Linked DNA regions of Homo sapiens: region 2 is linked to region 1. The links come from fine-mapping of genetic effects on gene expression. A gene starts in region 1. The other region holds a variant in brackets. All regions are shown on one strand. Distances are between the middles of the regions. Region 1 holds the start of KHK (ketohexokinase). Region 2 overlaps TRIM54 (tripartite motif containing 54).

What was found. PIP is the estimated chance that this variant, and not a neighbour inherited with it, causes the effect.
Region 2: its variant is the best candidate, but not a certain one, in a credible set for the expression of KHK in spleen (GTEx, PIP 0.83).

The regions. Positions count from the first base shown.
Region 1 is chr2:27,084,879-27,089,263 of GRCh38, forward strand. KHK (ketohexokinase) reads left to right here and starts at 1,894. Exons shown (of 8, transcript NM_006488.3): 1 at 1,894-2,473. The coding sequence starts at 2,382. EMILIN1 (elastin microfibril interfacer 1) reads left to right here. Exons shown (of 8, transcript NM_007046.4): 6 at 113-130; 7 at 282-419; 8 at 800-1,525. The coding sequence ends at 1,137. RefSeq lists enhancers at 878-1,097, 2,088-2,147 and silencers at 1,228-1,387, 1,438-1,897.
Region 2 is chr2:27,290,769-27,295,153 of GRCh38, forward strand. All of the region lies in intron 1 of TRIM54 (tripartite motif containing 54), which reads left to right. Among named protein-coding and RNA genes, the nearest start is that of TRIM54, 11 kb to the left of the region's middle. The variant G/A (reference allele first, on the strand shown) is at 1,723.

The DNA of each region.
Region 1 (4,385 bases):
GCTTTGAAGTCCACGTAGCACCGAGCACAACAGGAGAGCCTCAGCAGATGTTTGCTGAGTGACTTAGTGAGAGCTGCTTTATTTCTCACTGCTCCCTTTCCTCTTCTCACAGGTCCTCAAGGTGAACAGGGTGAGTGCCTTTCATTTGATTCTGGAGGGAGAAGTGACTAGGGGTTGGAGGATAGAGGTCCTCGGGCAGCCCTGGGCTGGGGATCCAGCAGGGGAAGGGGGCTGGCACTCTGCCCTGAGCATCCCCTTTAACATCCACCCTTCCCACTCAGGAGTGGAGGGGGCACCAGCAGCCCCTGTGCCCCAAGTGGCATTTTCAGCTGCTCTGAGTTTGCCCCGGTCTGAACCAGGCACGGTCCCCTTCGACAGAGTCCTGCTCAATGATGGAGGCTATTATGATCCAGAGACAGGTAGTCCTGGGAGGGGCTGGGTTGAACGGTTGGAGAAATGGGTGAGGTGTGCAGTGATATCTTCCCATTCTTGCCTTTTCCGACAGTGTGAATCTTCATTCTCTGATTTGGGGAGACCCCGGCTCTTTCTTCATTTATTCATTCTCAGGCAGTGGGGAGAAGAAGTAGTCATTCATTCATTCAGCAGATCTTTACTGGGGCCTGCTCCTGCCCAGGCACTGTTTTAAGTGCTGGGAATGCATAGTGAACAAAGCCCCCAGTTCCCTGCCGCTCACATTCCAGTGAGGTGAAAAGACCCAGAGGGTCCCTCCTCAGTCCAGGAGTTCTGGTGCGCTCCCCGGAGCTTCCCTGGCCCCCCTGACTGCTATCCTTGTCCCCAGGCGTGTTCACAGCGCCACTGGCTGGACGCTACTTGCTGAGCGCGGTGCTGACTGGGCACCGGCACGAGAAAGTGGAGGCCGTGCTGTCCCGCTCCAACCAGGGCGTGGCCCGCGTAGACTCCGGTGGCTACGAGCCTGAGGGCCTGGAGAATAAGCCGGTGGCCGAGAGCCAGCCCAGCCCGGGCACCCTGGGCGTCTTCAGCCTCATCCTGCCGCTGCAGGCCGGGGACACGGTCTGCGTCGACCTGGTCATGGGGCAGCTGGCGCACTCGGAGGAGCCGCTCACCATCTTCAGCGGGGCCCTGCTCTATGGGGACCCAGAGCTTGAACACGCGTAGACTGGGGTCCCGCCCGACGTGTCTACGTCGGCTGAAGAGACAGCGGGGGCGGCGGGCTCCTGGGGTCTCGCCTGAGACGGGGCACCTAGCCCTGGGCGAGCGCCGCACCCGGGCCCGCAGCGGCACCGCGCCCAGAGCGGCCTCTCCCCACGCCCGGGGCGCGCCGGCTCAGGGAGGCTCGGGGCCGCCCATGCAGACTTTTGGCCTGGCGCGATCCCCCAAGAACCCCTCCAGGGCCGGCCTGCGGAGGAGCCGATCCTCGCACCCTCCGCTCCCTCCACTGGCCCTCCAGGTCGATTCCCTGGGCTCCAGGCTCCCCCGCGCGGGCGCCGCCCACCGCCATACTAAACGATCGAGGAATAAAGACACTTGGTTTTTCTAAAAAAAACTAAACGAACCGTTCTGCTACGGTACGGGGTCGGGGGCTGCCGGGCGTGCACAGGGCACGGGGCGGGAGAGACGACGGCCTCCGGAGAGGACCCCGGGTTCCGCACTGCGTTCGCCGCCTCCGCCCGGCTCGGGGCGGCTCGGGGTTGGCTCAGGCAGCAAGCGGCGCCCGCCCGGCTCCTGCGACGTCTCCCCCGTGTCACGCCCGTTTCGCCGGCGTCCGCCAGGGGGCGCTCTGCGTTCCCGCCACGTGAGGCTGCGGCCCACCCGGCGGGTCCTGCTCCTCCGCGGCGGAGGCGTGGCCTCGGCTGGGACTAACCGGGGCGGGGCGGGGCGGGGCGGGGCGGGGCCGCCGCGACCGCGGGCTTCAGGCAGGGCTGCAGATGCGAGGCCCAGCTGTACCTCGCGTGTCCCGGGTCGGGAGTCGGAGACGCAGGTGCAGGAGAGTGCGGGGCAAGTAGCGCATTTTCTCTTTGCATTCTCGAGATCGCTTAGCCGCGCTTTAAAAAGGTTTGCATCAGCTGTGAGTCCATCTGACAAGCGAGGAAACTAAGGCTGAGAAGTGGGAGGCGTTGCCATCTGCAGGCCCAGGCAACCTGCTACGGGAAGACCGGGGACCAAGACCTCTGGGTTGGCTTTCCTAGACCCGCTCGGGTCTTCGGGTGTCGCGAGGAAGGGCCCTGCTCCTTTCGTTCCCTGCACCCCTGGCCGCTGCAGGTGGCTCCCTGGAGGAGGAGCTCCCACGCGGAGGAGGAGCCAGGGCAGCTGGGAGCGGGGACACCATCCTCCTGGATAAGAGGCAGAGGCCGGGAGGAACCCCGTCAGCCGGGCGGGCAGGAAGCTCTGGGAGTAGCCTCATGGAAGAGAAGCAGATCCTGTGCGTGGGGCTAGTGGTGCTGGACGTCATCAGCCTGGTGGACAAGTACCCTAAGGAGGACTCGGAGATAAGGTAGGGGCGCCCAGGTCCCCTAGGGGACCCCAGGGGCTGCTGCAGTCCAGCATTTGTGCCAGCGACCGAGGCTGCAGAGACCCCGCAGTGAGGCCCTGAGAACCCGGCTTCAAGGCCGGACCCGCGCCCTCTACCCGGGAATCCTGGGGGGGCTCCCAGCATGACAGAAGAGAGGAAGGAATTGAGGCCTTTAATAAGAAGACCCAGGATTTAATAGCATCGTGTTAGCCAATTTCCATTTCAACTCAGGCATCAGGTGTCAGGTGTCAGGCATCAGGATCCCCATTTTACTGATAAGTATAGATTCAGAGACCAAGGGGCTTATCCAGGGGCACACAGCTACCTGCTTCTGCTGTTTCTTTTTAAACCCCAAGCCTATGCACTTGCCTCTCATCAACATTTACTTCTAACTTATTTATCCACATATCTCGCACCTATTTCTGAGAAAGATTTGAGGTAGCTTACAGTAAAAAGTATGTACAGTTAAACTGTTGGAGAACATTTAAGACCATGGTATTTGAGCTTCAACTATAGCTCAGGGCTTGCTGGCACTGGAGGCAAACATGAGATGCCATGGGTTATGTATGGATAGAGCTGGTTCATGAGCCCTGGCAAGCTTTTTCCTGGTGCTAAATTCCAAGAGGAGTTTACCAGAAGTCCTTTTCACAGAGGTCAATGAACACCGTTTAGTAGTGGGAAATATCTTTCTCAGTTGTCTGCTAGAAACTGAAGAGTCAGTTGTTGGTTCTTTTTTTTTTTTTTTTTTTTTTTTTTTGAGACAGGGTCTCATTCTGTCGTCCAGGCTGGAGTGCAGTGGTGCAACCATGCTCACTGCAGCCTTGACCTCCAGACTCAAGTGATCCTCCCACCTCAGCCTCCTGAGTAGCTGGGACCACACATGCACGTCACCATCCCAGCTGTATTTTAAATTTTGTATAAGGGACGGGTTCTCACTATACTGATCAGAGTGGTCTTGAGCTCCTGGGCTCAAGCAGTCCTCCTGCTTTGGCCTCTCAAAGTACTGGGATTACAGGCATGAGCCACTGCACCCAGCCGATTTGTTGGTTCTTTTTCTTTTTGAGACAGAGTCTCGCTCTGTTGCCCAGGCTGGAATGCAGTGGCATGATCTTGGCTCACTGCAACCTCCGCCTCCTGGATTCAAGCGATTCTCCTGCCTCAACCTCCTGGGTAGCTGGGATTATAGGCATACGCCACCATGCCCCACTAATTTTTTTTTTCTTTTGTAGAGACAGGGCTTTTCTTTGTAAAGACATGTTGGCCATGCTGGTCTCAAACTTCTAATCTCAAGTGATCTGCCCGTCTCAGTCCCCCAAAGTGCTGGGATTACAGGCATGAGCCACCACACCCGGCTTATTGGTTCTTGTATTTCCTCTTGATAAGGGCCCCACCATTACACTGTAATGCTGTGAAGGCATTTCTGTGGGGCGGGACACTAGCTTTCTCTTGGTGCAGTCAGTGAGTGCTTAGAACACTGAGAATTGCTCCTGGGCTATATCAGTTGTCGCAGCTAAGAACTGGATAAGAGGCAGTTCAAGACTGAACTCCACAAAGACACGACAGTGCTGATGGCTGCCAGGCTAACTGAGGTGAGAGACCCCGACACTCCTCAGGCTTTGGGGCCACAAAGCACCATCACATATATTATTTTATACTCTCCTCCCAGCAGCCCATGGGAACTGTGTAAAGATCAGTGAAATCCTTTATACAGATAAGGAAGCTGAAGATTTGGAGATGTTTTTTAAGGCCACGGAGTTAAATGGTGGCACAGTGGCAGCTGCAGCTCGAGTCTCCTAGTGTGGAGTCCAGGGTCCCTGCCCTCTGTCATCTCCTGTATACCCTGTCCCTTTGCTGTTGACCATCTCTTGGAGTTGACCCTTTGCTTTGGTTTGCC
Region 2 (4,385 bases), 210 kb after region 1:
AAAACTGCTGTGGTTTTGTGCTGCTTCCCCTATATTGTGCTCCATTAAATGCTTCTGTTAAAAACCAGAGATGTTACCTATAAGGGGCAACAATTTGACCCATATAGCCAGTATAGAAGACTTTCTCAAAGTAGCCACTCAACATTTGCAAAAGGTTTGGAACACAAGTCAGACAAATTTTGGTAGAGAAAGTCAGGAAATGGTTAGCAAATTTCATTCTTATTTCACCTTCCTGATTTTTGCCATAGCTGTGTACTACCTGTACTATAATTTAATAGTTCTATTTTAAAACACTCACTTTTAGGCTAGGTGCACTGGCTCACACCTATAATCCCAGAACTTTGGGAGGCCAAGGTAGGCAGATCACTTGAGTTCAGGAGTTTGAGAGCAGCCTGGCCAACATGGTGAAACCCTGTCTCTACTAAAATATAAAGAAATTAGCTGGGCATGGTGGTGAACGCCTATAGTCCCAGCTACTCAGGAGGCTGAGGCTGGAGAATCACTTGAGCCCGGGAAGCAGAGGTTGCAGTGAGCCGAGATCGTGCCACTGCATTCTAGCCTGGGCTACAGGAGTGAAACCCTGTCGCAAAACAAAAACAAACAAACAAAAAATGACTTTTAAACCTTAAATATTTACTTTATCCTTATTCTATACAATGTAATCCATGAAAAATTGTCAGTTTTTTGTGGACTGTTTTTTTCCTAATATGCATTAGAATTAACACATAAAAAATCTTGAACATCCATCCCCATACCACCTCCAATCTTCATGCTTGTCATCAGTATTATACCATATTTTGGGAAACACAATGAGGGCGTCTAAGCAATATGAGCCAGAGGCCCTGGAAAGTCTGAAGGATAAATTTTACTATTTTATTACAAGTCAAATGTAGTCTTAATGCCAAAAAGCACATGTATGTAAATATTGGCCAGAAAGACTAGCAAAGGAAGTGGGGTTAGGATTTGGCTGGGGGCTAGCATTGCTGAAGCAATCACAGAAGGGAAGGGCTGCCCTGGAGATTAAGATGAAAGCCAGCCAGGCCCGACGGAGATATGGCAGGAGAAATTGGACTTGTGAATCAGGAGGGGACTCTGGGACTGGGGGATGAAAGCTACACGCAAAATACGGGACTGTGGTGTCAGCAGCAGGGAGCAGCACCAGCCCTGAGCAAGACGGTGGGAAAGCAGAGGTGCAGCCTCTCCCCACCGCCCTGCACCCTGAGCTCACACACTCCCGATTTCTCTCTCCCAAGACAGGAACTTTTCAAAGGACTTGGGTTGGACTGCCTGAGTACTGATGCCTCTTAGCCTTCTGGGCTCCAGAATAAATGCAATGACTAACCAATGCGATGAGCTGCTAAAGAAATTGCTTTGGCAGGTGGGAGGGTGTTGAAGAGGTGGTGTTAGTGTGCCTCCCTCAGGTCAAGTCCTGAAGTCAGTTCTGGCTGTGGGGAGTTTGAAGGAAGACATTGGCCAAGATAGCCCAAGTCCTGATTACTTTTTTCTTTCTAAAAATTGTAAGCTTGGCATGGGGTCTCACCCCTGAAATTCCAGCACTTTGGGAGGCTGAGGTAGGAGGATCGCTTGAGGCCAGGAGTTTGACATCAGCCTGGGCAACTAGCAAGACCCTATCTCTGCAGAAACTTTTTTTAAAAATTAGCTGGGCATGGTGGCACACCTGCAGTCCCAGCCACTTGGGAGGCTGAGGTGAGAGGATCCCTC[G/A]ATCCCAGGAAGTTGAGACGACAGAGAGAGAGATCTTGTCTCAAAAAATTTTTTTTAATTTTTGTAAAATGCACATAACATGAAATGTACCACCTTAACCTTTTAAATGTACAGTTCAATGGCATTACATACATTTACATTGTTGTGAAACTGTCACCACTATCCATCCCCAGAACTTTATCACCACCCCAAACTGAAACCCCACACCCCTTAAACAATACCTCCCTACTCCCCCTCCTTCCAGCAACTGGCAACCACCATCCATCCTATGCCAGGTACCTCATTTAAGAGGAATCATACAATATTTGTCCTTTTGTGTCTGGCTTATTTTGCTTAGCATAATGTCTTCAAGGTTTATCCATGTTACAGACTGCAGACCTGGTTACTTTTAGCTGATAATTTCTATTGCAATCTATGTGACTTTTATCAGCATCATCCATTCTCCTGTCAAATGTGGATTTTTTTTCTGTGTTGATATTTACTTGATTTCTTTCCTTAATTCTGCCAGCTCTCTTTTCTTCTCCAGTTTTGATCACTTATATCTCTTTGTTTTTGTTATTTCTTTTAAAATGGTATATCGAAATGGTATTGATTCTTGGAGTATCTGTCCCTTGTTTGTCAAGCTTTCTTTTTTCTTTTCTTTTTGTATTATCTGGTTTGCATCTTTTGTTGGATTCTGTCTGCTTATCACTCCCCTTTTATCAGGGTACTTTTATCTGGAGCTGAAGGTGAATTCCTGACTCAACCCACTGTGTTTATCTTGGCTTTCTTTCACTGTCCTCTTAAATATAAGCTGCCTGGTTGGATGTTGTCATTGGTTTTGCAATCTCTCTTTAGTTCTGTGCCTTCTTTGGTGAATAGAGGGGTATGACCTGAATTAATAGGTAGTTGAGTGTCTCAATTTGGTTGTGTTGTCTTGGAGTATTTTTCACGCAGAATCCGGTGATTTATCTACCATAGAGGCCCACACAGGTCCATGGGAGGAGGTCTCCCCTGAGATTTGAGCTATTTCCTCTCCATTTCACAGACAAACAGGTCATTCTGGTTGAAAGCAGGGCCCTTATAGAGCTCCATGGCACACAGGGTTTTAATTTGATGAGTCATCTTTTGTTGATCTTTGCTTAAATAGCTTTAGTCCACAGTTGCATAGTTGATTTTCAGGCTGTAGTTTCTTTCCTCTGTGAAGGTTTGAGGTTTGTTCCTTCATTACCCTTTTACTTTTTTTACTTAAAAAACAAAAACAAAAAACGGCCAGGTGAGGTGGCTCACACCTGTAATCCCAGCACTTTGGGAGGCCGAGGTGGGTGGATCACCTGAGGTCAGGAGTTCAAGACCAGCCTGGCCAACATGGGGAAACCCCATCTCTACTAAAAATGCAAAAAATTAGCCGGGCATGGTGGCACGTGCCTGTACTCCCAGCTACTCAGGAGGCTGAGGCAGGAGAATCGCTTGAACCCGGGAGGTGGAGGTGGCAGTGAGCCAAGATCCTGCCACTGCACTCCAGCCCGACGACAGAGTGAGACTCTGTCTCAAAAACAACAACAACAATAATAACAACAACAACAACAGTAAAAGAAACTGCCTCTGCCTGAGACTCAGAGAAATGAATATTAGCTCTAAGGGTTTTTTTGTTTTGTTTTTTGTTTGTTTTGTTTTTGAGACAGGTCTCCCTCTGTCACCCATGCTGTAGTGCAGTGGCATGATCACAGCTCACTGCAGCCTTGACTTCCTGGGCTCAAGTGATCCTCCCACCTCAGCCTCCCAAATACCTGGGACTAAAGGCATGAGCCATCTTGCTTTTTCTTCTTTTTGTAGAGACGTGGTTTCACTGTACTGCCCAGGCTGGTCTTGAACTCCTGCACTCAAGCCATCCTGCTGCCTTGACCTCCCAAAGTGTTGGGATTACAGTCATGAGCCACCGTGCACAGCCTGGCCTAAGTTTTATTGTGTCTGACAATGGAACACAATGATTATTAGGACAGGCTCTGGAGTCAGAGTGCCTAAGTTCCAGTACTGGCTTTGCCACCTATTAGCTCATGACCGTGTACAATTTATTTAATTTCACTGAGACACAATTTCCTCATCCTTGAAATGGGGCTAAGACTATTACCTACTTCAGGGCCAGGCATGGTGGCTCACGCCTGTAATCCCAGCACTTTGGGAGGCTGAGGTGGGCGGATCATGAGGTCAGGAGATTGAGACCATCTGGCCAACATGGTGAAACCCTGTCTCTACTAAAATACAAAAAAATTAGCCGGACATAGTGGCAGGCGCCTGTAGTCCCAGCTGCTTGGGAGGCTGAGGCAGGGGAATCGCTTGAACCCAGGAGATGGAGGTTGCAGTGAGCTGAGATTGCACCACTGCACTCCGGCCTGGGCGACAGAGCAAGACTCCATCTCAAAAAAAAAAAAAAAAAAAAAGAGTATTACCTACTTCAGGGTTGATATGAGGATTAAGTGAATTAATACAAATGAAAGACTTAGAGCAAATCCTGGCTCAGTAGATGTTAGCCATTATTATTCTATTTCTTGTAGACTAAGTTAGGAGTGATTGTTCACCTCCTCGACCATCTTTTTTTGTTTGTTTGTTTTTTGAGACAGAGTCCTGCTCTGTCGCCCAGGTTGGAGTGCAATGGCGCAATCTCGGCTCATTGCAACCTCGGC